Linked DNA regions of Homo sapiens. The protein of the gene in region 1 interacts with the protein of each later gene in a pairwise test. Each region holds a gene or a part of one and is shown in the gene's direction. Other genes may lie near its edges. The genes, in order: AGXT, FHL5, EFS and CFAP68.

Region 1 (7,172 bases):
TGCTCCCTGGCCGAGCGCCCCCATAGTGCCCACTGACCTCTGTCCCCAGGGCTGAAGAGGGCTTGGTGCAGACTTCCATATCTTGCCAGGGCCTGTCCCCACCTCACCCCGAGATTGCCAGGACACTAAAGCTGCCTGATGCCCTCCACTTCCCTCCTCCAGCCTCCCTCATCCCCGCATGGGGGTGCACAGGGCAAGGCCTTGAATGGAGTCAGATGGGATTCCTGAGAAATGCGGACAGAGCCCCTTGGGACCCAGCAGTCCCGTCTGCAGGTCTGAGCACAGGACAGAGGAGAGAAACTCCACGGCCAGGGAGGGTCCTTCTGACAGGGCCCCCAGCCCAGACAGCTTGCTGCATGGACCGTGGCCATGAATAAAGCTCACAAACATAACCTGGCCAGCTTCAGCAACACCCAGGCCATCCCCACCTGCGGCCAGCACGAGATACTTTCTGTGTCTCTTTTTTCTTTATAAGAAAACCTGGAGGTGGAGGAGGGTGAGAGTTTGTGAACATGGAGGCGGAGGAGGGTGAGAGTTCGTGAACATGCAGGCGGAGGAGGGTGAGAGTTCGTGAACATGTAGGTGGAGGAGGATAAGAGTTCGTGAACATGCAGGAGGAGGGTGAGAGTTCGTGAACATGCAGGAGGAGGAGGGTGAGAGTTCGTGAACATGGAGGAGGAGGAGGGTGAGAGTTCGTGAACATGCAGGCGGAGGAGGGTGAGAGTTCGTGAACATGCAGGTGGAGGAGGGTGAGAGTTCGTGAACATGCAGGAGGAGGGTGAGAGTTCGTGAACATGCAGGAGGAGGAGGGCGAGAGTTCGTGAACATGGAGGCGGAGGAGGGTGAGAGTTTGTGGCGCTGCTGCTTGGGCTGTTCTGGGACTCTGTCCCCTCTGGCCTAGATTCTGGCCAGTGGCTGGGCCGAGCAGCTGTTGGCAGAGGTAGGCCCAGCCTGGTGCCACCCTGGTCCCTGGGGTCCACACAGGCCCTCAGGCACCCGCTGTCCCTGGGAACCACAGACTGCCCGGCTGACCCTCTTCAGCACCACTGCCGGGCCCTGCAGCTGGGTCTCACCAGGGCCGTGATGCTCCCTCACTCCCCCAGCTCCCTCTGCTCCAATGTTCAGGGCTGAGAAAGGAAGAGCCACAGGTCCTGATGGATCCTGACAGGCAGGAGAAGGCAACTGGCCAACTCCTGGGGTGGAGGTGGGAGGTGCCCTGCCTTCCTTGCCAGCCTGAGGCTCAGAAACCCCATCCAGCCTGGGGCCAGGCCCTCCAGTGGCCCCCTGCCTCACCTGCTGCCCTCCATTCTGTCCCCCACCTCTCCAGGTACAAGTGCCTGCTCCTGGTGGATTCGGTGGCATCCCTGGGCGGGACCCCCCTTTACATGGACCGGCAAGGTAAGGGTGGGCTCTGAGAGCCCTACCCAGCCCAAGCAGCCTTGGGGCTCCGCGTGCAGGAAGCCCTGCTGGAAGCGTGCGTCCAGCAGCCGATGCTGCGGATTCGGCCCCATCTCCACCAGGCCCAGGGAAACACTCACTCCTTACTGCGGCAAGAGCGGCTCCATGAACTACCCAGCACCCCAGTGTTTCCACTGAGCTTTCAGATCCAGGCGTGGGGACTGGCAGGAGGGACAGCTTCTGGTGGGGGACATTTGAGATGCCCCAGAGCTGTAGCAGAAGCAGTGGGAAGAGGAAGGGCCAGGGCTCCAGTCAATCAGGCGTTGGGCACCCCTCTGCCCAACCCCCCAGAGGCTCAGTTTCACATCTGCCCTGCGCCCTGCCAGGCTGCCCATAGCAGTGAGCACCACTGTCAGGGTCACCTCGCAGGGAACCTCAACCAGGCCGGCCGAGGGGCCAAGGAGCCTCCTGTGCCCATCCGCTTACGGGAGAGAGCCTGCACATTGCATCCACTGCGGTGCCTGCCCACCCACTCCATGGGAGCCTGTCTGTTTCTGCAGAGCCCCTCCTGATTTGGGAGTTCTCAGGCAGGAAGGGAGGGATTTCTGGGCTGATCCTCAAACTACTACTGAAAGCAGGGACCTGGGGAGGGCCCCAGGGACACGGTGCCTGGGGTGGCAGGGCTGTCCCTGGGGACCAGCACAGCAGAGGGAGAAGCTGCGCTAAAACGCTCAGGCCTGAGGTCATGGCTGCCACGCAGCAGTGCCCAGATTTGAACCCAGGACTCCCTTCCACATCTCCCCTGCTATCGTGTACGGATTCGTGGTAGGGTCGTAGCCTACCAGCCCATTAGCTAGGCAGGCATCCCGCTGGACTGGCCTGCCCTGAGGTGGGACTCACCCGTCCCGAGCAAACCACCCATCTACAGGCATCGACATCCTGTACTCGGGCTCCCAGAAGGCCCTGAACGCCCCTCCAGGGACCTCGCTCATCTCCTTCAGTGACAAGGCCAAGTGAGTGACCCACAGACCCTCACCTCTGTGCAGGGCTGGGCTTGCAGGGAGCTCAGGTGGCCCGAGGCGGGAGGGGCGGGAGCCAGGCAGGAAGGGCTCCCCATGCTCCTCCAGCACCTGGCGCTCTCCCGCCCACCCTCTGGGAGGCCAAAGGCACTGCGTTCACAGGGAGTGGGGAGGCCGGGCGAGGGGAGGGCTGCAGGCGTGTGCAGGGTGCAGAGTCCACTGCTCTGGAAGTTCCCAGCTTCACAGCAAGGAGTGACCAGGAAAGGACTGAGGGCCTGAGGCCCAGTGCCCTGACCGGCCTCTGCCCTGGCTCAGCTTCCAGGGGCTGCCCCAAGGGACAACGTGGGCCACACACAGTGCCCCCTGCAGTCCCAATCTCACCTCCCGCTCCTGGTGTCCAGATTCTGAGCCAGGCCGGGCAGGGGGTAGGGGAAGGGGGCCAGACCTCACAGGCGGTTCCCATCCAGCTGCAGCCTGGCAACTGGAGGTGCCGTTCCCCAGAACAGAGAGGACTTCGGGGAGAAGTCAGGAATTCGGTGTTGGACGTGGGAGGTCTGAGATGCCAGCTGGACCACACGGGAGGGTGAAGGAAGCGGCTGGGTGTGAGTCAGGAGCCTGGGGAGAGGCCGGGGCTGGCCCCTCCATCTGGAGTTGTAGAGACGGACACATTTAAAGTTTCAAGCCTGGCCAGTGTCCCCTGGGGCCCGAAAGCAGTCACCTTTGGGTGATGTGAGAAATGAAGGCTGACCCTGTAGGAGGGGCTGGGGGAGAGAAAGGGGCACACAGAGTGGAGGGAGCTGGCCTTGGTGCCCCCATGGCAGGGTCACACAGCTGGGCCCAAGGGCCAGCGGGACTGGACAGCTGAGGGACCCACGACCCACCCGGTCCCACTCTGGCCCCTGAGCACAAATGCAGCTGGGGCGGGCCCTCCTGGGGGCCCCACCCCGTCTCACTCCCGTGAAACAGGACAGCCAGCGAGACTGCCCTGGCCTTCAGCCCAAACTGAGAGGCTGGTGCTCAGCCTGCTTCTTTCTCCCCAGAAAGAAGATGTACTCCCGCAAGACGAAGCCCTTCTCCTTCTACCTGGACATCAAGTGGCTGGCCAACTTCTGGGGCTGTGACGACCAGCCCAGGATGTGAGGCCTGGCAGGGATGGGAAGGTGGAGGGCGCTGGGCATGGCTGAGAGGTGGGGCGCTGGCCTCTCACTGCACTCAGGGATTCTCCAAGCCCCCCACCTTCATGCCTCAAGAACCCCAACTAGAGCCCCAGAATCCGCCTGCATCAGGCAGTCAAATGCCCCACCCTGGGTTCCCCCATTCCTCGACTGGCCCGAGGCTCTGGGCAGGGTCATGGCCCCCACTGCCGCTTCCACAAACACTGTCCCCCCAGAGGTCCCAGCACACCCTCGGGCACTTTGGACCTGGCCCTGCCACATCTCCCCACTCCTGGGCCTCAGCTTACCCCTTCTGAAAAGACGACCTTGGCCATAAACCCAAGGCCCCTTATGTTACACACAGGAACAAGGCGCCAGGAATGGTGCCCTAGCCCAGTGGGCACAGAGGGCCAGTGCCGGCTTCGCAGGCACGCTGGGACTGAGGGGCTCCGCAGGGAGGTGGTGGCACGTGTCTCTGCTCCTGCAGCCACCCACTGCCTCCTGGCTGGGCCCTACACAAGCCATGCTCTCCCTGGCAGACGAAGCTGCCTTCCCGGTCCAAAGTTCTGAACCCGGACAGGACTCCTCTGCGGAGGATACCGGCCTGTGGTCAGAGAGCCTGTGCTGTTGGGGCTGGGGCAGACAGAGCTAATGCCCCATCTGCCCCCAACCCTGCCCATGGTGCTGGACCAAGCCCCCTCGTGTCTTCCAGGTACCATCACACAATCCCCGTCATCAGCCTGTACAGCCTGAGAGAGAGCCTGGCCCTCATTGCGGAACAGGTGCATGGGCTGCACTCCACAGGAGGAGACAGGGCCACTGGCTGGATTGTCGAGGGCGCGGCCTGCAGAGAAGGAACCATCCCTGGTGCACAGAGAAAAGGGAGCCTGCCAGAGAGAGGCCCTCAGTGGGGGTGGGGGAGAGAGGACAGGGCCCCGGGTACACTGGCTGCGGGCAGGGCCAGGGGGATACAGCCCCAGGGACAGATGCAGCAATGGGGCAGGTGTGGATGCTCCCAACCCTTCCATTGCTGTGTGAAGCAGTAAGTGAGGCCCAGTGAGTGGGTGGGCTGGGAGAAGGGGAGGCCGAAGGGGCCAGAGATGTGCCCACAGATAGGTGGGCGTGGATGTAAAGTGAGGGTTGGCAGTTCCTGCAGGCTTGTCCAGCTCCTATGGCAGGGCAAGAGCTGAGCATGAGCACTTGGGTGTGACCAGGGGTTGATTTGGCCACTGCAACATCCACACTCTCAGGACACTGCAACATCCACACTCTCAGGACACAGGCGGCTGAGAGTGGCCTCAGGCCCAGCAGCTCTGCAGGCCACGAGACAGGAAGTCCCACCTACTTTCATCTGGGTCCTGTGTCCCACAGGGCCCATTGCCAGCCACCAGTCCAGAGTCCAGGAAGGATCCCCGGGCTGCAGCCAGCTTCCCATGAGGTTGCAAGGCCGTGCCTGCCACGTTTGTCCTCCTGGGTCCACTCATAAAGCCACTGCCTAGGGCTGGGTTAGTGCCAGGGTGCCCCTGTAAGCTAAATGCCACCCGCACCCGCGGGGGAAGGCGAGGGGTCAGGCGCTCACACAGGGAAAGGCTCTAGGGTCGTAAAGGTGGGTGGGGGGTGTGAGCTGGGCAGAGAAGGAAGAGAACAGGACCAGACAGCAGGGCACAGTCAAGGGCAGAGGCACAGGGACCTGGCAGAGTGCAGATTGCAGGGGCACATGCGCAGAGAAGACGGGCCAGGGCCAGAGTAGAGAGCAGCTGCTGCTCCGGGGACCCACCTGGGGTGGCCATGAGAGCTGGTGGCTGGAGGCCGGGAGGACCCGTGACCAGAGGTAATGGCACTGAGGGGCCCAGGGCTGGAGAGACCACCCCTCACCTGTCCAGAGCTGAGGCAGGAGCAGTGCTGCGGAGGATGCCAGGTCGGGGGAGCTGGCCCTGAGAGGAGAGGGGGCCTGGGAGCCAGCACCCTGAGCCCTGGCCCTGATCCACTCCAGCCCTGTGTAGCCCAACAGCCCTTCCCCTCCTTGCCCAGTCCCCTCCCCCTGCAAGGCACTCTCCACTCTTCTCCCCCAGGGGCCACAGGCAGACCTCCCCTCTGTCTCTCTGAACCCTCCTCTGTCTCTCCCAGACCCAGATGTTTCCTTCTGCCCTGGGGTAGTCCCAGGCCCTGCCCCAGGCAAAGTCAAACTGGGGGCTCCAGGGGCTCCCCTGCACCAAGGCCTGCAGAGTCAGGTTCTTCCTCCCGCACCACAGAGGGCGGGGCTTCCTGCCCACCCCACCCATGTCACTGCCCACCAGCGCCATCTCCCACACAGGGCCTGGAGAACAGCTGGCGCCAGCACCGCGAGGCCGCGGCGTATCTGCATGGGCGCCTGCAGGCACTGGGGCTGCAGCTCTTCGTGAAGGACCCGGTAAGGAGGCCCCTGGCATTGGGCAGCCCTGCACCCATGGGGAAGGATGAGGGGCTCTTGCCCAGCCCCCTCAAGAGGGACACTGGCTCCTGAGAAGGAGGGGGCGGCTGCCCGGTGGTGTGGCCTCGGTGCCAGGGATTAGTCTCGGCAGGAGCCACGAAGTCACAGCTCCCGGCCTCTGATGCGGGATCTCAGGACGGCCTGTGATCTCCCAGTGGGAAGGTGCCCATCCACCGCCTCCTAAGGGGTGGGGTCCCTGCTCTCTCCCGGCCCTTTCTCCCCCGGCTCCTCTGGAACCTGAAGCTGGGGCAGATGGTGCAGGCCAAGAGCTGTCACAAAGGCCCGTACAGGGCCTCTCACCCACGCACTGAGCCAGGCCCCTCCTGCAGGCGCTCCGGCTTCCCACAGTCACCACTGTGGCTGTACCCGCTGGCTATGACTGGAGAGACATCGTCAGCTACGTCATAGACCACTTCGACATTGAGATCATGGGTGGCCTTGGGCCCTCCACGGGGAAGGTGAGAGGGAGCGCCTCGAGGGCCTTTTGCAGAAACCAAACCCGCCACCCCTCCTTGAGCAGGACTGTGCACCAGGTGCAGGGGAGGCCGGGGTCATCCGAAAGCCCAGATTGCAGGAGCGTCCAGAAGGGCCCACTCTCCAAGGGGTATCCAGTAAAGCGTATCCTGTCGCCCCTGCTCCCACCCCAGCCCACTGAGGTCACCAGGTGCAGCCTTTATGATTCCACTCGGAACATCCTTCCTTCCCTCTGACCAGACCCTGGAACCAGGCCGGAAGCCCCACGCCTGGGCCTGGCTGTGTCTCTGAGTGGCAGTGGGGAGGGACCTTCACTGCACCACCCTGTCCTCCCGTGTGGCTGCGGGTGCAGAGGGAGGAGAGCCTGCCCTGGCCTGGGTGCTCAAGGGCCCCCTCTGTGACCTGCACAGGGCTGTCAACTCCCCTCATGGACGCTGGGTGGGTGGTCCTCACTCAGGTGAGCCCATCCTGGCTCTGGCCAGCTGTCGGTCAGGGTCAGGCAGGTCCCAGGCGGGAGGCTGACGTCAGCCCGCCCTGTGCCCCCCAGGTGCTGCGGATCGGCCTGCTGGGCTGCAATGCCACCCGCGAGAATGTGGACCGCGTGACGGAGGCCCTGAGGGCGGCCCTGCAGCACTGCCCCAAGAAGAAGCTGTGACC
Region 2 (5,768 bases), on another chromosome or scaffold:
ACATTTATTAGGAAGTAATGTTGATAGCATCATAGATAAGCAAGCTATAAATTTAATCAAGGAAAGTAGAGAAATTTGATGCAATTTTCTGTATGAACTACTAAATTATATATGAAGACATCAAATAAGTTTGTTAGGATGGAAACAAAAGTTCATTATCCTATTTAAGAAGAATGTATCTGAAATAGAATGCTATTCACCCTTTCACTTCACCATTCCAAATGGAGTATTTGGAAATTACATATGAATTACATAACTCTTTTAGCCTCACTCCATGGATGATAAGCAAATAATAGCACTAAGATTACTGGGAGAAAACATGAAATAAATAAAGACCCAAGCCTAGGGCATCTCAACCTCTTCCCAAACCCTAACATTTTCTCCTTTAATGTAACTTCTCAAAATCAATTTCTTGAACTATACCCTGGAATCACATTAAGGAGACAGAGATCAGACCCTCACCGAAGATTCAAATTCGACTACTTTTTAAAGAAACAGTATGGTTCAAGTGAGGCCCAAGTTAAAGTGGAGGAGGCTGACAAAGCTCTTAGAAACCAATCACGTGATAACGTGGCTTCATTGGCCAGATTCAACAAAAGCTGAAGCTGGCTCTGAGCAAGGTAATAAGGCCATCACGTTAGGATGGCTGAATGATTAGACAAAATCCTCTATTTGGTTATGCTTTCTAGAAATAGTGTCCCAAACCGTATAACCCCAGGACATATTCTAAGTACAACTAAGCACAGAAAAATGAGGGGAAAGAAGAAAACTAAAACTCATTACAACATTGGACATCAAACTAGGAAGCATACATTTATTTCCTTTTATCTTCATTTTGCAGCTAAGAAAACTTAAAGTCATATAGAGAAAAAGGGGAAATGTATTCATACTTAGATATCTCTGACTTCACAACCTATACCTTCTTTCCACTATGCTACACTGTATTGTCTTATCTGGCTTAGACAACCTTATCTGTTTCCAAAAATACCTGACTTGCATATTAGCATTCTGCCTTCTTCTGTTGATTATGGCAGAATTTGGCTGTGAATCTGGTTGGGTGGCATAGGTGTAACTTTCCTACAGTGGATAGTTCCAGATGGACACAGGGCCAGGAAGCAGCATTCTTTTTTGGGTTATTTGCCTCTGCGTTGTTTTGCTCATAGCTCTATCTCCAGTTCCTAGAGGAGCATCTGCTAGAATGCTCAATCTGTTCCTTGAAAGGATAGATTAATCTTTTTCTCCAATTCCTTTACAGGTCTCACAGGTGCCAAGTTTATCTGCTTTCAAGACAGCCAGTGGCATAGCGAATGCTTTAACTGCGGGAAATGCTCTGTCTCCTTGGTGGGTAAAGGCTTCCTGACCCAGAACAAGGAAATCTTCTGCCAAAAATGTGGCTCCGGAATGGACACTGACATCTAGGAGACAGTCCTTGCCCACCTAAAATCCATTTTGCCTTCGTTGTCACTAAAGCCAGAACTCAGTTGCGGTCTTATTTTTGACTTAAGTTTTAGAAAATATTCATGTAGTTTAGAGTGGAAAAGTTTTTGCACACATTTTGATCGAACTATATTCTAAGCACACAAAAAGCACAGTAGAACAGAAATGAATATATGCTAAATCACAAAGACAACTCTCCTTGCAAAATACTGCACTCTGCTGTTAGAAGCAGAGGAAAATATCTCTTCATAATCAAATATATGACATATACCTAGGAGCTGTGGATGTAATTACTGAAGAATGAGGTTTTTCATACCTGAAGAGTAAAAGAAAAACTAAGAGATCAAACTGAGAGGTATACATGAGGCTAGTGTTTGCATTCCTGGTTATATGTAATGTGATAAATTAGCTATGAATGGTAAAAGAACAAAACTGATCAGAGTAAATTCATTAGCAATTATCACATTTAAGAATTGTTATCATTTAAAAATCATCCTTTTTTTCACACATACTGACTGTAGAATTAAAAAACAAAGCTACAATTTGCCCTCATACACACTGCTTCCACAGCTTGCTAGTTCTGTGTTTACTCAATGGAATATGAGAACTGAGGACATTATGGCTCTCATAATCTGCATAGGTATAAAGAGGATCATTTCTACCTAGGGATAGCCAAAGCATGGGTTTCAACACGTTTTGTATTAAATATATTTTCAAAGTCCACAGTGATTTTTCTAAACGCTTACAGATTCCATGAAATAAAAGTCTATTCTTTCAAGTGGAGCTAACCAGGATAATCTTTGTCCCCAAAGGCAAACCTTTAAAATAAATAGATCATTAAATCTTCACTTGTGGAAATGAGTTTTAGGGAAGGGATTGAGTCTTGGAACATGACTTTCATCCAGATATCTAACGACATAATAGAATGCATAATTAGCTCTGTGCCTCATGCATTATTGCCTTCTAAAATTACATAAATGATTAATGGGCAGACATAAAAGTGGGCTTTAAAGAAATCTAGTAATAATAAAAGCTGAAAAAGAATAATTCACTGCTGATAATTCAGAACCTGCAAAGCAGCACAATAGAGTAATGTGGGCTGTAGGCGAGCCCTCCCCACTCTTCCCCCACACCTGTGCCACACCCCCCTTACCCCAAGCCAGTTGTGCCCCCAGTTTCAATCTCCTGCATAACCAGGAGGTGCACTCCTAACCCTAAGCAACTGTCCTATAAGTCAGTCAGTGTTTATTGATCACACAGGAAGTAAAGAGCCTTAGTGAGAAGTCCATCACCAGGTTTATCTTTATACCAGACTTTAACTGATCATGACCCTATCTTGCTACCCCTGGATATTTTCCACATTACTTGGGACAAATGGAAAGCAACCTCTGCTCTCCATGATCTGTTTTCACATTGGTTATAGCATCTCTTGGATGGAGTAGAGGGAGGTCAGGAGAAGAAGCCCACATAGATATATAACTGTCTTCTCTCAGATTACACATTATAGCATTAAAGGTTTTGATTAAAATCTAATTGTAAGATACTGCTGATTACAATTACCAAAATAGCATCACAGGAGATTCAATTAAAATTGTTATGGAAATAATTTTTGAAATAGTTTAAAATGCAAGAATATTCAGCGATGTTAATAATTTAGAGATACTAATAAGTGTTCTGCTAGATAGACTATTTGAAAACTATAAATGTATTTTTGGATTAACAATGCCAAGGTATTTTTTCATATTCACATTGAAAAATACAGGCAAAACTATCAATATTTTTTCTGCATTATATGAAATTTCACAGGTAGAACTAAATCTATGATATAGAAAATAATAGCACATTACACATAGAGAAAACCAAGCCACTTAGGTTTAGATAGATATATAACATGTAACATCTTCTCTGTTAACCAATTATAGATACATATACAACATGTAATGTTTTCTTAGTTAAACAATTGGAAATGTTTAGGCATTTTACTGTGTGGGGGCAGTGAGTATGCACATGATCAGACTTGTATTCTAGCTTTACAATTAAAATTCACAGAATCATTTCCTAAAGATTTTATTATCCTTTCATAAGTATAAATATATATACTTTTACATATAAATAGTTCTGCATTTAGAAGGTATCCTACACATCAAACATCCATTAAACATGTACTATGCCAAAAGTTAGAGCTTATACTGTTGTGGGTCTGGAGTTGTAGGAGGATGGATCATGGTATGGAAATGCAGAAGTGCCTGATGCAAAGATCCTTGCCTGCAGGTTAAACAAAGCACCACATATGTAGACATAGCACACATATGCAAAACAACTAAGAAAAAGACCTCCTTAGGTCTTTGCGTAACACACACAAAGATAAATGTAAAAATTATATAGTTGATTTATATGGTTTATGTAACAAAGAGAAAAACTCCTTAATGGACTTATCCAAAGATGAAATGGACTGACTCAGGAAACAGTGGGCTCCCAGTAATTCAAAGGTGACATCTGCATGGGCAGGAAAGAAGTTAAAAGCAAATCCCATGTGCCAATAACAACCAGATGGCTTGGAAGTAGCAGAGACTGCCGAAGAGCAGGAGAAAATAAGATTGCTAAAAGAGAAAGAGTCAGAGGAAGGGAGAATATTAACTCTTAGGATAAAAAGTGACATAACCGGCCATAGAAAGTTACCAACTGTTCATAAGTAAAGGAAGAAAATAATTATTGTAGTGTTTGAGGAAAATTATGCTTTTGATCCTTTGTGGAATAGAACCAAAGAAAGCAAGGTTCCAAGGATTAAGTTTCTTACTGAAGGAATAAGTTTGGTTAATGGCTACAAAAGTGAAAAGAAAGAGGAAGAAGGCATTGAAGGCCACGAGTTACATTTGTTGGCAAAGATGAGTATGCAAGTCAACAAGTCAAAATATTTTATTTTGTCATGTTGGGGATTAAAGATGACAAAAGAAGCAAAAATGTATTTCTGCTTCAATAATAATGACTAGGAAGCCCAAGGGTTCAATTTTAACTTGGCATTATAAAAGTGTTAAATTGGGACAAACTAGCTCCACTGGTTAAGTAAAATGTGGTTATGTTACAATCCAGGCTTCAAAGCTTACATCGTTGCTATAACTTAAAAAAAAGAAACACTAGATTGTTCATTAGAGTAAAATATTGGCCTACCATTATGAAAAATGCATAACACTAATCACAAATGGTTAAAAAAAACTGCCAAATTTAATATCACAAATGAAAAGTCAATCCAAAAACACATTTCATGTTAGCAATACCATTTTTGAATTTAAGAAAAAAATAACTTTTAATCTACTTGGCATATTGTTAATTGTCTGTGTTTTAAATAAGAAAATGGTTGTTTAGCCGGGCACGGTGGCTCACGCCTGTAATCCCAGCACTTTGGGAGGCCAAGGCGGGCGGATCACGAGGTCAGGAGATCTAGACCAGCCTGGCTAACACGGTGAAACCCCGTCTCTACTAAAAATACAAAAAATTAGCCGGGCACGGTGGCGGGCGCCTGTAGTCCCAGATACTCGGGAGGCTGAGGCAGGAGAATGGCGTGAACCCGGGACGCGGAGCTTGCAGTGAGCCGAGATGGCGCCACTGCACTCCAGCCTGGGCGACAGAGCAAGACTCTCTCTCAAAACAAAAAGAAAAAAAAAGAAAATAGTTGTTACGGTATGTTTTAGATATATTTAATCAAGCACATAGTCTGTAATGCACCTATAGATAGATGTTTATTATGATAATGATACAGTTTTTGCTAATTTTATACATTGGTTTTTAGAAGTCTCTTATACTGAATAAATTTACATTTTACATAGTCTATATTACTCACATTATTTTTAAAGATTTATTTTTTACATTAACTGTTTAGTAAACAGAATAGGTGTGGAATAAATTCTGTAGTGTTTCTACTTCGATTACATAAAGAAACATGATAACTTTTACCTTCTATTACCCATCTGTTTTTACAACATTCAAATTATAACTATATATTCAGATATTATTTCAGGGCATTAATAGGAAAAAAACAAAATTGTCCGACCCAAACAGAATCTCTCTTCTGTTAAATTAGGGGATCCATAGCTATGCTCTTTCTTACAGTAATAAAATGGTGAAAATATTCTAAACTAAAAATATCCTCTAATTATTATTTCTGTGACTCTGAAAATATTTCATGAAAAAAATCCCACTTCAATTGAATTTTTCTGCTTTGATGCAGATAGTCTTTTGCTAATTTCTTATTTCTATATGTAAGGAATTGCTAAAACTCTTGGTGGCTTTAAACCCTTATTTATTCTATCTAAAGCAAAATTTATGTCTAGTAC
Region 3 (8,036 bases), on another chromosome or scaffold:
CTCCAGCCTGGGCGACAGAGCAAAACTCCGTCTCAAAAAAAAAAAAAAGAAAGAAAGAAAAAGAAAGGGACAGACCTCCAAGCAGTGGGTCGCAACGGTAATCCCAGGTATTTAGGAGGCTGAACCCAGGCATTCGAGGTTACAGTGAGTTATGATTGTGCCACTGCACTCCAGTCTGGACCACAGATCAAGAGCTGATCTCTAAAGAAATATTTTAAATAAAATTTTAAAAGAAAGAGACACAGCCAAGACTCAAGCCCAGGTCTGCCTCTAGAACTGTGCTTTTAATCCCCTGGCTAGATCCAAAAGACTGATTTATAATTTACAACTAAAAAGAAAAGTGCAGCACTAACCGGGAATTTGTGTCATCTGGTTAGCACGTTTCTTTGTGTGGGACAATATCCTTTAGAAACCAAAATATAATCAGAAAATGGTTTGATGAGTTGGGAATCAGGCAAGAAGAGGGGTCAATTTGTTGTTAAAATCACCCAGCCATGAGAGGCCGGATAACCTCACCACCAGAGGGAAACATCAGCTAAGAGGAATATGCACTCCTGCTGACTCTAGCAGGGCATCCTTCTCCCCAGGGTCTGGTGGCAGCCTGCCTGAGATCTTTAACTTTGAGATTTTTTTGCTGAATTAGTCAGTCCGTTTGGCTACCTGGCTAGTAATGCCTAACTAGCTGCTCTCCAACACTACATGTAAGTCACCACTGCCTGGGATCCTACCAGCAAGCATCATCATTTAGCAATCAAAACTGAAGCTGAATGTAATTGTATGTTTTGAGTGGTTTTAGCTTGATTCTACCAAATGACATCATGGAGCAAGAGCACTGCGAAGGGTTATAGCAAAGGGAAATAGGGTATAAGAAGGCTTTCCTATGCGCTTGACTTGCTTTTGAGTTAGGGACCCTCTCAGCCACTGTTACTACTCTTTCTTTTAAGTAGATTCCTACATTTGTAATTGTGGAGAAGCAGTAGCACAAGTGATTGAGAGCGCAGGCTCTGGGATCAAGCAGCTTAGGGTTCAGATTATGCTCCACAAGCTGTGCCAGCGATATGGCATCAGACAAAGTACTAACCTCCCTCTTCCAGTTTTCTTTCCAAAATGGGGTAATGACAGTCCCTCCCTCGTAAGGTTGTTGTGAGAATTAAATGAGATGAGTTGATTAATGCAAAGATTTGCACAGTGTCTGGAAACGTTGTTTGCACTTGGTACCTGTGAGTTATTACCTGAGCCTGTGGCCCTTGATGGAAAAAGCTTATAAGCCCCCACCAGACAGGACTGGAAACAGAATGATACATGTTTCCTTTTGGTTGGCCTGCCAACCCCCTTCACACACACACACAAAGACACACTCTGTCCTGCAATGGAAGGGCCCATTGCTAAATGATGATGCCTGCTGGAAGGATCCCAGGCAGTGGTGACACACACACAAGAATACACACTTTTCTCCATGGTAACCTCAGCCTCTTCTGGTAGAAACTTATTTGCTCAGACTGAGAGCAAAACAATTGCTTTGTTTCTGTTTTCTTTCTTATTATGCCTAGGCACACTGTCTGGACTAGGCCTCTCCCAGTCTCTCAGAATGAGAGGTCTCTGTGGCTGCTTAATCTAACCTTTTGCTAGTGAGGGATAATGACTTGGGAACAGAGAGAAGGTCTATGAGAGACTGTAGCAGGGCTTCACATGTTTTGGAAGACATTCATTCAACATGTGTAATGACCAATTCCAGGTCAGGCCTTATTGCAAGGACTAGAAATATAGCCGTTCCTATGTTCATAGGGTTTACAGTATAAGGGAAGAAATCGATACAAAAGAAGCAAATAGACAAATAGTATAAAGTACGAGGATGGAAACAATAGGTGGAGACAAACAGAGAATGGGGCGGGGAGAAGAGTAAAGAATCGGCCTCTCTGAGGAGAGCTGGTCTAGTTGAAGGAACTGAAAGGAAGAGGGAGAATGCAAGCGGTGAAGCTGGAGAGAAGCTAGGGCCCAGGCAGAAAGCTGCATCCAGAGTTCAGGTTTTTTAGCTTGAGGGAAATGCGGAGCTCCGAAGGGTTCTAAGCAGGGGTGACGTGACCTGAAAGGGGTCTGAAGACCCTTCTCCCCACTCCCACCTCCCCAACCAGACCCAGCTGGCCCGGGCACTGTATGACAACACCGCTGAGTCCCCCCAGGAGCTGTCCTTCCGCCGAGGGGATGTCCTACGGGTCCTGCAGAGAGAGGGCGCTGGTGGACTGGACGGCTGGTGCCTCTGCTCCCTACACGGCCAGCAGGGCATTGTGCCCGCCAACAGGGTGAAGCTCTTGCCTGCTGGCCCAGCACCCAAGCCCAGCCTCTCTCCTGCGTCCCCAGCCCAGCCTGGCTCACCATATCCAGCCCCAGATCACAGCAATGAGGACCAGGAGGTGAGAGTGGGAGCCTCCCCAACCCCAAGCCAGAAGAGCCCCATTCCTCCCCAACTAGCCCCACCCAGGGCCTGCAGCAGGTGGGCAGGAAGAGCCCTGAGGCCACAGCTCTTCACTGCTCTGCGCTGGACGAAACCTGTCTACCAACCTTTCTGAGCTGTGGCCCTCTCGATACAGGGAGAGTTAGAAGGTCTCTAAGCTCCTCGCACTCAGACATTATCTGATCACCGGCCCCTCCGTTCCTCCTGACCCCCCATCTATTTGATCCCTCAGGTGTATGTGGTGCCGCCCCCAGCTCGGCCCTGTCCAACCTCAGGACCTCCAGCTGGACCTTGCCCACCCTCTCCTGACCTCATCTACAAAATCCCCAGAGCTAGTGGGACCCAGCTGGCTGCTCCCAGAGATGCCTTGGAGGTGAGGGCTAGAGGTCCCTGTGTATGTTGGGTGGGAGACAAATGGCCCCAAGGGAGGGTTCATCGCTGAGCTGACAGATGACTGACCACTCCTTTCCGCAGGTCTACGATGTGCCCCCCACCGCCCTCCGGGTGCCCTCCAGTGGCCCCTATGACTGCCCTGCCTCCTTTTCCCACCCTCTGACCCGGGTTGCCCCGCAGCCCCCTGGAGAGGATGATGCTCCCTATGATGTGCCTCTGACCCCAAAGCCACCTGCAGAGCTGGAACCAGATCTGGAGTGGGAAGGAGGCCGGGAGCCGGGGCCCCCCATCTATGCTGCCCCCTCCAACCTGAAACGAGCGTCAGCCTTACTCAATTTGTATGAAGCACCCGAGGAACTGCTGGCAGACGGGGAGGGCGGGGGCACTGATGAGGGGATCTACGATGTGCCTCTGCTGGGGCCAGAGGCTCCCCCTTCTCCAGAGCCCCCTGGAGCCTTGGCCTCCCATGACCAGGACACCCTGGCCCAGCTTCTGGCCAGAAGCCCCCCACCCCCACACAGGCCCCGGCTCCCCTCAGCTGAGAGCCTGTCCCGCCGCCCTCTGCCTGCCCTGCCTGTCCCTGAGGCCCCCAGCCCCTCCCCAGTGCCCTCTCCTGCCCCAGGCCGGAAGGGCAGCATCCAGGACCGGCCTCTGCCCCCACCCCCACCCCGCCTGCCTGGTTATGGAGGCCCCAAGGTCGAGGGGGATCCAGAGGGCAGGGAGATGGAGGATGACCCAGCAGGACACCACAATGAGTACGAGGGCATTCCGATGGCCGAGGAGTATGACTATGTCCACCTGAAGGTGAGCGCCCCTTGGCAGCCCCACCAGGAGGGACCCCAGAGGGACCAAGGGGAGGGGTGTGGAGACCTAGGGCACAGAGGCAGAGCCTCCCTGCCTCCCTTCTGTCCCCCTTCCCTCTACCCTGCAGCCTGGGACCCCAGTACTTGGCCACAACACTTGTACCAGTGCCACACTGTTCCTCCTAGACCCAGCCTGGGGCCACCAGAGCTCTCTGGAGTCAAGGGACTACAACCTCTGATAACAGGAGTGTCCTTCGGAAGGAAGGGGGTCCGGGGAAGGGGCAGAAAGGCCACAGAGGCCACCCCGTCCTGCTCCCCCACCCCGACACTGAGACCTGATCCCCTCCTGCAGGGCATGGACAAAGCTCAGGGATCTAGGCCCCCGGATCAGGCCTGCACAGGGGATCCTGAACTGCCCGAGAGGGGGATGCCGGCGCCGCAGGTGACCCTGGCGGGAATGGTGCTAGAGAAGGGGACAGGGGAGGGAGGAATGGGGACTTGGGAGAAGAACTGAGCCATCAACCGTGGAAGGAAATAGGTTAGGATGGAGTGAGAGTTCACAGGAACCAGGGACAGAGCGGAGGCAAGTTAGAAATCTACAGGAAGGAACTGGACCTTGGAAGAGGATGTTAGGAATTCAGAAAGAGGGGAAAGAATGTGTTGGAGAGGAGTCAGAAAATCAAGCAGCCAGGAGAGCAGAAAGTTTCTGAGTTGTGGGGTCAGAGCTGGGCCTGGGGACTTCTGAGCCTCCTTCCAACTGTGAATTCCTGGGCTCCTAAGAGACCTGGCTTCTAATCCCAGCTTCACTACTGAGAAGCCAGGGGCTTTGAAGCCGTCAGTTAATCTCTCCAGGCCTCAGAAAGTGAGGTGGTTTCCTCAACCCTGCGTAGAATGGTCGCAACACAATAGCTACCATTTATCAGGTATTTACCAAGTGCCAGACCCTGTGCTAGGCACACTGCACGTGTTAGTATTAATCACAGCCACAGTTAACACTCATCTGGTGCTCACAGTGTGAAATGCACTTTGCTAAGCCCTTTCTGTATATTATCTCAATTGACCTTCACTGCAGCCTCATGAGGTACATACTAGAACTGCACTATCTAGTACAGTAGCCACTAGCTACATATGGCTATTGAGCACTCAAGATAGGCCTAGTTCAAATTGAAATATGCTGCAAATATAAAATGCAGCCTGGATTTTACAGACTCAGTATGGGAAAAATCTCAATAATTTTCATGTTGATTATATGTTGAAATTATAACATTTTTATATTTGGAGTTAGATAAAATATATTAGGGTTTTGTTTTTTTTTTAACCACTTTTAATGTGGCTACTAACACATCTAAAATTTCACATGTGGTTCACATTATGTTTATATTGGACAGTGCAGTCCTAGACTCCCTGTTTTAGAGTTAAGGAAACCAAGTTCAAAGCCTTGTCCGAAATCAAGTTTGAGGTTGTTTGAATCCAGATCTATCTGATATCAAGTGTGGGCACTTCACTGCTGCTCTCTCTAGAATCTAAACTTTCCGATGGGCAGAGGTAAGAGCTAAAAGGATCGCCCTTGGGAAGAAAGAGAGGAAGGAGAAAAGAAGTGAGGGAGGAAATGGCACTCATGAGAATGTTCTCTCTGACCACTCCTCTTGCCCTTCAGGAGGCCCTGTCCCCAGGGGAGCCACTGGTTGTGTCCACCGGAGATCTGCAGCTCCTGTACTTCTATGCTGGGCAATGCCAGAGCCACTACTCAGCCCTGCAGGCAGCCGTGGCAGCCCTGATGTCCAGTACCCAGGCTAATCAGCCCCCGCGCCTTTTCGTGCCCCACAGCAAGAGGGTGGTGGTGGCTGCTCATCGCCTGGTGTTTGTTGGGGACACCCTGGGCCGGCTGGCAGCCTCTGCCCCTCTGAGAGCACAGGTCAGGGCTGCAGGTACAGCACTGGGCCAGGCATTGCGGGCCACTGTGCTGGCTGTCAAGGGAGCTGCCCTGGGCTACCCATCCAGCCCTGCCATCCAAGAGATGGTGCAGTGTGTAACAGAACTGGCAGGGCAGGCCCTGCAATTCACTACCCTGCTCACTAGCCTGGCTCCATGAAGGTCCTTTGGCACAGCTCTGCTCCTCCCCTGCCTGCCAAAGCCCCCCTTTAGGCCTTGGGTGGCTGGAAGGCTTTGTTAAGGGACTAGGAGAAATGGGGGTATCTTTCCCCTTTCCTGCCCTTTCTGCTCATCTCAACCTCTCACAGAGGTGTCTTCTCCCCCTAACCTACAGCTTTTTGTACAAGCCATTTTGTGTAAATTATTTATATTTAATATTATTCCCTGCTTTGTCAGGAGCAGGTACTAGGCTCTGGGGCAGTGAGGAACTAGATCCTTCTCTCCTCAGCCTAGGGTGGAGGTCACTGCACTACCACCCACCTCTGGAAGACTGGCTGTGAAAAGTCAGGTGGCAGAAACCTGGGGCCACATAGAGCCTCTCTCTTTTCCTGTTTCTTGGCTCTAGAAGATCAGCACTGCACTGTTAGCTGAGAGTGCGGGCAAGACATAAACTGTCCAGAGTTTGAAGGTTCTCGGAAAGACCGGAGGGCTTCTCCCCACAGAAGGCGGAGAGAGCTGGGGCTCAGACATGGGTGTGCACCTTAATAAACCCTGCTGTCTGCCTCCCTGACTCTGCTTCTTGGGAGCATGGTGAGCAGCCCTGGTGCTCAGCAGCCATACCTATGGGACACACACTACGAAAAGGATGCCTTTAGGGTTTGGGGGAGATTTTACTCCTTTCTTCAACAACTATTCACTGGACAAGTTCTCTGCTCCCATGACGCGCCAGGCACAGTTCTGCAAGTATATTGTGAATGTATTGTTCTAGTGGGATACACAAATAAGTCAGTTAAAATACATAAATAAAAACATAAACCTGCCATAGATTCGACATTTGCTGGTGATGGACGTCGGCAGGATGATTTGAAGAAACTAACTAGATGAGGGGAGAGGGCAGTGAAGGAGACTTTAGACAGGATGGTTGGGAGGTGAGATCTGAACTGAAACCCAGAGGAGGAGAGTCTGAGGACTAGTGTTCCCAGAAGGCAGATGCCGATGACTGACCTGAGGGCCTTCCTCCAAGACTTCATTGTCATATGATGTCATTAGAGAGGTGTCAATGTGGAGAGAAGCTGACCACATAAGGGCCTTGAAATGTGCCATCCTGGAGAGGCCACCCCAACTAAAGGCCCAGCCTCAGCTTTGCACCACAGGATAGCCCTGGCCAACTGGAGACTGCTGCTGGCCAGTCTAGGCACCCTCTTCCTTAGGTGACACCAAGAGGGTATAGGCCTTTTCACTTGGCTTCCCAGGTAGATCATCTCAGGATGACCTGCTCATCATCCTTCTGGACAAACCATTTTCTGGAGGATCCGCGGTTGCAGATGAATGCAATGTGTTGAAAGGTCAGTCTTCAGGACTTTGGTGAAATTGATAAGACCGTGGCTTAGATAGATCACGCTAGCCATTTACCACAAGGGAAAACATCCAAGCTACAAATCAATTGCTTCAGTTCTGCTTTCCCAAGATATTACCATGGCATGATGACTGGATTGGGGGCATAATCATAGTCTGTTGGCACCCCTGCACATTTGCCTCCTCCCCTTTAGGTTCCTTTCTCATCTCACTCTCAAAGAAAAATGCACTGTCAGATTCTGGGGCCAACAAAATTCACCCCCATGTGTTGAAGTCTATCGTCCATCATCTTCCAAACAGAATTTCAAGAGATTAGCCTGGAATTAGAGGTTTCAATTCAAGTCTCTGATCTGCCATGTAGTTGTGCATCCATGGGTAAATCATGCCAGTCCCTCTGAAGTCCTGGTTTCATCTTCAATATTAGCATGATCATAATGGTCTTACAGGGTTATTGTGAGGACCTAACAAGAAAATGCATGTGAACAGCCCCACAATGTATAAATTAAGTGATTATTATTCCAGGACAGACACAAGGATGCAGACGATAAATCCCCAAGGAATATTGGCTATACAGCACCATAGTAAAACCTGAAGAGATGCTGAAATGAGTTGGGAGAGGGGAAGTGGTAGGAGGCTGCTTGATGCATTAGCAAAGAAATGTTTCGGAGGGATGCAGTGACTCGCACCTGTAATCCCAGCACTTCGGGAGGCTGAGGCCGGAGTACGGCTTGAACTCAGGAGTATGAGGCCAGCCTGGGCCACACAGTGAGACCCTGTCTCAACAAAACATCAAAAAATTAGCCAAGTGTGGTGGCACATGCATGTAGTCCCAGCTATTCAGGAGGCTGAGGTAGGAGGATTGCTTGAGCTGGGGAGGTGGAGACTGCAGTGAGCTGTGATCAAGCCACTGCACTCCATCCTGGGTAAGACAGTGAGACCCT
Region 4 (8,763 bases), on another chromosome or scaffold:
CCCTTCAGATGATCCAGCAGTGATTGAAGACAGCCATCCTTCAGATTTTGATTAACCCCAAGGATAAATAAAGTTTCATGAAATGCTGGCATTGTGAAAGGCAAAATGTGGCACTTCTGAAAGACAGGTCCACTGAGGATGTGCAGAGAACCTGAGAGGAAGTCTGGTACTTCGATGACATCCTGAACATGCACTAGGAGAGAAGGTCTAAGGCAGATCTTGGCCTGGCCACAGGTTCCTTCACAAGCTTCTTCTTTACCATCTCTTCCAGGATTCTTGAGAAGGCTAAGTTCTGAAAATGACACTAGAAAGTCTTCCACATCTTGTGATGTCCCACCAGTCAGGGACTCAGAATTTGAGTTATCTTCATGGAGACTAATCCAAAAAGCAGCTGACAGAAAGTCACAATTCCAGAAAGGAAGAACACTGGTACCTTCCTGTGGCAGCAAAGGGTAGGAACACTTCAGCCTTTTTAGCGGGAAAACTTTGCCTAATTCAGCAATGAGTTTCTCATTTATGGTTTTGATAGGATGACATGAAGGTGCTTCCAGGAAACCCCTGTTTAAACACACACAAAAATAACTTTTCTAACTTAAGATAGTAAATAATTATAATGTAGCTAGAATTAAAAATACAAATAGCTGGACAGAAAAGAATTATCTTTAAATTGATCTTGAAAGGAAACAAAGAAATCATCTACCATAAGGAGAAACAGACGTGTATTTCAGAACTCTGACAGCCACCATCCCTACAATATATCAGAAAATGTGACCATTTATAATTCTAGAGATGCTTAAGGAGGCCAGGCTGACAAATAAACATAGCACCAACATCACTAACAATTTATGCACCATCCATTCAATATATGGTTGCCATCAAGACAATCAGGATACAACTGGAGATGGAAGTGATTTCCAGCAAAATAACTGGTTACCTGTTCAACTTTCCTACAAGTGCTTCTGGTTCTGGAAAGGAAAACCACTGGTTACCCAGTTTGATCCTGAAGATTCTGGGTTGAGAACCTTCAAAAGGTAAGCTCCTGGTGAAGATATGGTTCAAAGCACCTTCTACATGAAAGGACTTATCTTGACTCCTGGCAAAATAGACACCAATATGAAGTCTGTCATTATTAAAATAAGCAAGTATTTTTAGAGACCGAATCAATTAATTGGCAGGGCCTATTGAGTCTGTCTATGAGATTTTGTTATCATTAGTGAGAGAGATGAAAACGCAGAAGGCTTAAACCTATGCTATTACCTACCTATATCCAGTGCACTTGTACCCTGCCACAGCCTTACAGCTGAATGGATACACGTCGCTTAAAATGAGCCCCCCCAGGGCTGCCATGGCAACCACTTGCCAACTGTTGTGCCATTCTCTCTGGGGCTTATCCGCAGGAGTTCCACCTTGTCCTCTACATAATGCCACGTGGACTTCTCCTTCCTCTGCAAGAACGTCTGCACAGCTAATAGGGAGAAAAGAAACACTAACTAATTATCATAAACAAGCAGAAATTACCACAGGAGTTGGCAACATACACATGGTTTGCCTGTGAAATAATTAAAATCCAATCATACCTATGTGCAAAAATCTATTAGACCTCAAAAAATGCAAAGAAAGTAGCTGGAAGTAAATAGAAGCATAAATTAAATGTTCAACCCACTCACTGATAAGATTGGCTGACCAGGGTCTGCTTTGCATTTGTGTCATTCATGCATATGTCACAGAAAGATCAATATCTGCACAGTTCCTATATATGATTCATTGCTTAGGCTGTTTCTTCCCATTTAGAAAGTTCTTTTCACTGCCCTCCTGAAATTCAAATACTAGTTTAAAATACCACCTCTGTCAAAACTTTATTGACAGCTATGCCCCATCGGACACCTCCAATAGTATCATGTCTTGTGGTATAATCATGTAAAGCACTGTTTTCAGTTCACAATAATTTTATGAGGCTGTTAGTTACTTTTTTTTTTTTTTTTTTTTTTGAGATGGAGTCTTGCTCTGTCGCCCAGGCTGGAGTGCAGTGGCACGATCTCAGCTCACTGCAACCTCCACCTCCCAAGTTCAAGCGATTCTCCTGCCTCAGCCTCCCAAGTACCTGGGACTACAGGCACGTGCCAGCACGGCCAGCTAATTTTTATATTTTTAGTAGAGGCGGGGTTTTGCCACTTTGGCCAGGCTGGTCTCAAACTCCTGACCTCAGGTGATCTGCTCACCTCGGCCTCCCAAACTGCTGGGATTACAGGCATGAGCCACCACGCCTGGCCCAGTTAGTTACTATTAATATCCCTAGTTTACAGTTGAGGAAACGGAAGCATGTAAAGATTAAGTAAGCTTGCTTAAAATAACAACTGTTGGCCGGGCGTGGTGGCTCATGCCTGTAATCCCAGCACTTTAGGAGGCCAAGGCAGGCGGATCACAAGGTCAGGAGATCGACACCATCCTGGCTAACACGGTGAAACCCCATCTCTACTAAAAATACAAAAAATTAGCTGGGCGTGGTGGCGGGCGCCTGTACTCCCAGCTACTTGGGAGGCTGAGGCAGGAGAATGGCGTGAACCCAGTAGGCGGAGCTTGCAGTGAGCCGAGATTGCACCACACCACTGCACTCCAGCCTGGGCGACAGGGCGAGACTCTGTCTCAAAAAATAAAAATAAATAAAAATAAAAAAATAACAACTGTTAAGTGGTGGGCTGGGATTTGAATCCAGGCAGTCTGGCTTCTAAGTGCACGTTCTTAGCCATTAGACTATATGGCTCTCATTATTTTGCACTGTCAAAAATAAATGATCCTCTTTTACACACCCAAGAGTACATTATTTGTACTTTCATTTAGCATTTAGGGTTTATATATCTGTCTTTCCAACTAAACTTGGGGTTCCTTTGGGGCTTTATAGTCTCTTCTAAACATATCATAGTAGCTTGCACGTGTGCCTTATGTTTGGGTACAGTAACTATGTTATGGACATCTTAAACATTTTCCTTGTGAGGGCGCTCCTTTCCTCACCTTTGGAAAAATTTGGCAAGCAGTTCCCTGTTCTTAGCTACGCCAGCTTTGCGTCCACAATGCGGGAAGATGAAATAAATTTGATCAAATTCTCTCTCGTGCAGTTCAAAGACATCTGCCAGCTGGGTGCAGTCCACACCGAAACGTACATCGATACCTGGCAAAGATAGTTTGGGGGCGCAAAATATAGACAGGAGGATGCCTCAAGACATGGAACAGAAAAACTCTTCCTAACTTAAACCGTGCAGACCAGCCCAAGTCTGGGCACAAAGCCGGCTTTATGTGAATATCCGTGGGACGATCAAGAACAATCTCCACGTGGGTTACATCCCCACGCCCCCACCCTTTCCACTTTGGGACGCGCCGGCCGCTGGGCGGGGTTTCGCAGAGGGGCGGGCTCGCTACCTCGCTCGCGCAGGCACTGCAGATTCTCCCAGGCCAGTGGATCCCGAGCCAACTCGGCCGGGCGCTGGAGGCAGGTGGCGGTAAGTTGAGTGCTCTGATCCAGGGTTTCGCTCAGAGCGGCGGCGAAGGAGAAATTCCCCTCCCCAACCAACAGGAGGCGCCGAGGGGCCATGGCCTCCACGGACTCCCGGCTCGCGTTCTCTGTGGCGCTCGTTTTACGTCACTTCCTTCACGGATCTCTCTCCGCCCCGTCTTCTCCCGTCACTAGTTGATGACGCACCCATGGCGCCTGGTTGTCTAGACGAGCCGGTGTACCGACTCCCCGGTGGATGATAACTATGAGTGCAAAAGCAAGACGCGCACTTTCCTGTCACCTCGCCCTTTCACCCCCTCGGGAAGATCAAAGTGTCTTTAGCCCAAGCATGGCCTTGAGCGACTTCATCACACCTGCATGAGGTCACAAGCAGTCACTAGCGCAGGGGGGTGAGGCGAGTTCTGGGTGAAAGAAACGGGGCGGGGCTGAGGCCAAGGAAGAGGTTGGACTGTGTCTCGCATGCTCCTGACGCAGAAGGTTTTGAACCTTTTTTCACCTCGTCTGAAATGGCTGCCTCCCAGTGTCTCTGCTGCTCAAAATTTCTCTTCCAGGTGCTTAAATCTCCTATCTTCTATTCGTTCAAGAAAGAGTATTGAGTGTCTATTGCGTGCCAGGCCACTGTGAGGGTGGTTACGATATGTGGATGAACAAAATGTGGCCTATGATTTCAATGAGCCTGCAGTCTGGTGGGGAATGCACAGAGCAAAACAGGCAACTCTGATATGGCAGGGTGTGTGCTCTGGGAGCACACAGAAGAACGTTACCAAGTTTGGGGGCGAAGAGGGTCAGAGAGTCCTTGGATGAAGTAAACCCGAGTTGAAAGCTAACAGGGTAAAAGTGCATCTTAACTGAGTCAAGAGGCGTGAAGAGGCAGAAGGAACAATATATGCAAAAGCTTGATGGAGAAACAGAATAGTTGAGTTTGGCTGAAACACAATTGGAGGGAGAGTAACAGATGAGACTGAAGAGTTAGGCAGGGGCCAGGTCATAGGGAGCGTTGTAAGCCTTTAAAAAAAATCAACTTTTATTTTACAAATGGGGGTACAGGTACAGGTTTGTTACGTGGATATATTGCACCCAGGTAGGTTGCAGGTTTGCTACATGGGTATATTGCACCTAATAGTTTTTCAACCCACACCACCCGCCCTCCCCACTCTAGTTAGTAGCCTGGAGTGTGTGTTGTTTCCATGTTTAGGTCCATGTTTGCTCAATGTTTAGCTCCCACTTATAAGTGAGAATGTCAGAGGTATTTATACCAGAGCAACTCCGTCTTGAATAGGGGCTAGGTAAATAAGGCTAAGACCTGGGCTGCATTCCCAGTAAGTTAAGGCATTCTTAGTCACAGGATGAGATAGCTCAGCACAAGATACAGGTCATAAAGACCTTGCTGATAAAACGGGTTGCAGTAAAGAAGCCAGCTAAAATCCACCAAAACCGAGATGGTGATGAGAGTGATCTCTGGTCATCCTCATTGCTACACTCCCACCAGCGCCATGACAGTTTACAAATGCCATGGCAAAGTCAGGAAGTTACCGTATATGGTCTAAAAAGTGGAGGTATGAATTAATCCACCCCTTGTTTAGTATATAATCAACAACCATAAAAATGGGCAACCAGCTGCCCTCAGGGTTGCTCTGCATATGGAGTAGCCATTCTTTATTCCTTTACTTTCTTAATAAACTTCCTTATGCTTTATAGACTCACCTTGAATTATTTCTTGTGTCTCTTGGGGTCTGGATCAGGACCCCTTCCGGTAACAAGAACATGCTGTATTTGGTTCTCTGTTCTGTTGTAAGCCATTTTAACAGACTGAATCTTACTCTGAAAACGGTGGAAAGCCACTGAAAGATTTTAAATAAGAAGATGATACAATTATACTTTCACTTTGAAAAATTCTCCTTTCCTGTGGAGAAAGGTTTGGAGAGGAACAAGGCTGATGGCATGGCAGGATAAAACAAGAGGCAACTGCAATAATGGAGACAAAGCTGACAGTGATTTGAATTGAAATTTGGCAATGGGAATGGAGGGTGGCAGTCTGATTCAAAAATCAACAAGACTTAGTGACTGGATGAAAATTAAAGACAAGTCAGAGTCAAAGATAAGCCCCAGGCTTCTGGCTTGGACAACTGAGTGGATGGTGATGTCTGTCATTCCAGCCCTAGAGACAGTTACACCTAGATCTCCAGTATGAGTACCAGGCCCATTGGACTTTGTGGCACCAGCTACTCTGGTCATCATGTTGTTTGGTAACATCAGTGCATGCATCTGTCTTCACAAAGGCAGATGGTATGAGGGTAGTTACCTGGGATGTCATCCTTCAATGCTGCATTATTGGCTTTGTTTCTGCCTGTGGAAAGGCAAGTGGGTGGTGACTCCCAAATCATGGCCACTTGCCCATGGTAATCTGGGTGATTCTTTCTTTGCTTGGAGAACTGGGAAAGCCAGGTTTGTTGACATCTTTAAAGAACATGGAACAGCCAAGTAAGGATTTCTGTGACTCTCATAAGAAATCTTCAAAGAGCTCAACCTACTCAGCATCAAGTTACTCTTCTTCAGGAAAGGTATCATCTTCCTAAGTCAGGGGGCCAGACTCACATTTTGGGGAAAAAGAAAGATTGAGCTTTTATCTTACCAAAAAAAATGAAATCAGACATTGATCATCTGGTATATGCAATCCAGATTGATTGGGAGAACAGGCAGAAGGACAGGGTACAATAATGAATAAAACAGATCCTGTCCTTAAGGGGCATACAGCTCTGTATAGGAGATATAATGCAGACTTAAAGAACTCTAATGTATGGTAAAAAGTTATAAATACAGGGAAAGATAAAGTTTTATGTGAGTTGAAAGAGAAGCTAACTTCAGGGAAGGCATCATTTGAGCTAGAAGGAAGGAAATGATCATTTATTACTCATTTATTGTGTTATCTAGTTACTCAACTCTCACTTCTTTTTGTTCTCTTTGACTGTAGCAGTGCTTTTAGTCCCTCAATGCCTACATCTCAAAATTACCTTAAAAATTTAGCTAATTCTCCATATTGTATTGGGAATACTGAAGTTTTTCCTGTCTCTTCACGGGGCCTGGGGAGCGGGGGTGTGGATTTAATCCATGTAGTCACCCACTGTTGCTGATTGAAAGAATGGATCAAAGGGTCCCAGGACTTAGAGAAGAAGAAACAGAACCATAACATAGCCTGGATCATTAGTACGGTGTGCTTGTGTTATACCTGGCTATGTAAAACAAGGGCAGGAAAAGATGCTTTTTCTCTTCTCTGGTTTATGCAATAAGCTTTTCTATTCTTGTCTTTTCCCAGAGACAGAACCTCGCCTGTTTCCTCACAAACCCACACTGTGGCAGCCTTGTTAATGCAGATGGCCATGGTGAAGTGTGGACAGATTGGAATAATATGTCCAAGTTTTTCCAGTATGGATGGCGATGCACCACTAATGAGAATACCTATTCAAACCGTACCCTGATGGGCAACTGGAACCAGGAAAGATATGACCTGAGGAATATCGTGCAGCCCAAACCCTTGCCTTCCCAGGTAATCTAACTTTGTCTTTTTTGTTTGTTTGTTTCCTTCTGTTGGCAAAAGAAATGTAGTGGCCATTTGAAATGCAGGGATGTAATAACTTCTGGTGCAGTGATCTCTCAGTTTTCAGTGAAGTGGTTGGGGCAGAGGAACAGTCCGCAGCTGAACCACCTATGCTACTTTACTGTCAAGTTGAATATTTTATTATCTGTAAGGTTTCAAAAGGAAGGGCAGTCCTCTTTTTCTCTTACTTCTGTTTGGACTTTATCTCTTAGTCTACAGAAATTTATAATGTCTTCTGACTTAGACTAGCTTTTCCCCTGGTCCTTGCCTATCTAGACTTGTCATTTATCTGAGTCTTGCACTTAAATCGCTCCTAAACAAACAAACGTACAAAACATGTGAAAGTTAGAAGGATATAGACTAACACCATAGAACTCAGTCCATCTAAAATATGACAGTCCGTGAGAATTCATGTCATATTGATCTTTATTTCCTGATGTTAGCTGTAGACTTCCAGATTCTTAATCTGTTAATTTTTCTTTCCAGTTTGGACACTACTTTGAAACAACATATGATACAAGCTACAACAACAAAATGCCACTTTCAACACATAGTACGTGGACTGTTTTTTCAAATTCTTACATTTTCAGAACCTAACTCAGTGACCGGCACATAGAAGGAACTCAAATAAAAGTAAACTGAATAGGTGAATAAGTGAGGCTGGGCGCAGTGGCTCACACCTGTAACCCCAGCACTTTGTGAGGCTGAGGCAGGCAGATCACTTGAGGTCAGGAGTTTGAGACCAGCCTGGCCAGCGTGGTGAAACCCCATCTCTACTAAAAAAAATACAAAAATTAGCTGGGCTTGGTGGCGCATGCCTGTAGTCCCAGCTACTCAGGAGGCTGAGGCAGGAGAATCACCTGAACCCGAGAGGTGGAGGTTTCAGTGAGCAGAAATCAAGCCACTGCACTCCTGCCTGGGTGACAGAGTGAGACTCTATCTCAAAAAAAAAAAAGAAAAAAAAGGTGAATAACTACATGAATGAGTAAACAGGATTTTTTCTTCAATTTTAACAGGACTTACTGTCTATTCCCTAGAAATAAGAGCAAGATCAGTTACTAAAACTCCTTAGTGTTGACTGTTTTCATTTGTCTTTCCTTCCTTTTTTTTTCTTCCCTCAGGATTTAAGCGAGAGCCTCACTGGTTCCCAGGACATCAACCTGAACTGGATCCTCCCCGATACAAATGCACAGAAAAGTCAACTTACATGAATAGCTATTCAAAGCCTTAAATTGGGCATCACTCAGGATGTGTATAAGATCTTAATATTGACTAGTTTCACATCCAGGTTTCTAAGAAATGATAAGATACTTCACTTTTCCAGAGTGAAATGTAGGAGGGAGCACATTCTAAGTACAGCTAAAAATTTAGCTCACTGTAACACAGTTTCACTCTCTGAATAAATAAAGCAAAAAACACAGTAAATATTCTTTATCCCTTTTTTTGTTGTTGTTTTAACCAAGATTTAAATGTCAAATTTAATACAGCAACTCAGTTCTACATTTGGGGTGTTGTAGAAGGGCCTTAAAAAGAATTATTTTAGGCCAGGCACGGTGGCTCATGCCTGTAATCCCAGCACTTTGGGAGGCCGAGGCAGGTGGATCACGTGAGGTCAGGAGTTCGAGACCAGCCTGACCAACATGGTGAAACACTGTCTCTA

The links.
Region 2: the proteins of AGXT (region 1) and FHL5 interact in binary tests that used the Homo sapiens proteins (3 or more experiments, as listed by UniProt).
Region 3: the proteins of AGXT (region 1) and EFS interact in binary tests that used the Homo sapiens proteins (3 or more experiments, as listed by UniProt).
Region 4: the proteins of AGXT (region 1) and CFAP68 interact in binary tests that used the Homo sapiens proteins (3 or more experiments, as listed by UniProt).

What each region holds. Positions count from the first base shown.
Region 1 is NC_000002.12:240,871,652-240,878,823, forward strand, and holds part of AGXT (alanine--glyoxylate aminotransferase), read left to right. Parts: intron 1-1,327; coding exon 1,328-1,398; intron 1,399-2,326; coding exon 2,327-2,411; intron 2,412-3,457; coding exon 3,458-3,553; intron 3,554-4,283; coding exon 4,284-4,353; intron 4,354-5,885; coding exon 5,886-5,981; intron 5,982-6,370; coding exon 6,371-6,499; intron 6,500-7,062; coding exon 7,063-7,170; 3' UTR 7,171-7,172. UniProt on the Homo sapiens protein: Peroxisomal aminotransferase that catalyzes the transamination of glyoxylate to glycine and contributes to the glyoxylate detoxification.
Region 2 is NC_000006.12:96,614,354-96,620,121, forward strand, and holds the end of FHL5 (four and a half LIM domains protein 5), read left to right. Parts: intron 1-1,255; coding exon 1,256-1,419; 3' UTR 1,420-4,273; downstream 4,274-5,768. UniProt on the Homo sapiens protein: May be involved in the regulation of spermatogenesis. Stimulates CREM transcriptional activity in a phosphorylation-independent manner.
Region 3 is NC_000014.9:23,354,930-23,362,965, reverse strand, and holds the end of EFS (embryonal Fyn-associated substrate), read left to right. Parts: intron 1-2,132; coding exon 2,133-2,411; intron 2,412-2,684; coding exon 2,685-2,825; intron 2,826-2,926; coding exon 2,927-3,649; intron 3,650-4,000; coding exon 4,001-4,090; intron 4,091-5,305; coding exon 5,306-5,740; 3' UTR 5,741-6,560; downstream 6,561-8,036. UniProt on the Homo sapiens protein: Docking protein which plays a central coordinating role for tyrosine-kinase-based signaling related to cell adhesion. May serve as an activator of SRC and a downstream effector. Interacts with the SH3 domain of FYN and with CRK, SRC, and YES.
Region 4 is NC_000011.10:111,875,547-111,884,309, forward strand, and holds the start of CFAP68 (cilia- and flagella-associated protein 68), read left to right. Parts: upstream 1-3,994; 5' UTR 3,995-4,014; coding exon 4,015-4,059; intron 4,060-5,938; exon of another isoform or gene 5,939-5,976; coding exon of another isoform or gene 5,977-6,069; intron 6,070-6,821; coding exon 6,822-7,052; intron 7,053-7,589; coding exon 7,590-7,656; intron 7,657-8,224; coding exon 8,225-8,334; 3' UTR 8,335-8,763. Other genes in the region: FDXACB1 (ferredoxin-fold anticodon-binding domain-containing protein 1), read right to left, coding at 1-558, 935-1,093, 1,262-1,465, 3,010-3,166, 3,415-3,586. UniProt on the Homo sapiens protein: Microtubule inner protein (MIP) part of the dynein-decorated doublet microtubules (DMTs) in cilia axoneme, which is required for motile cilia beating.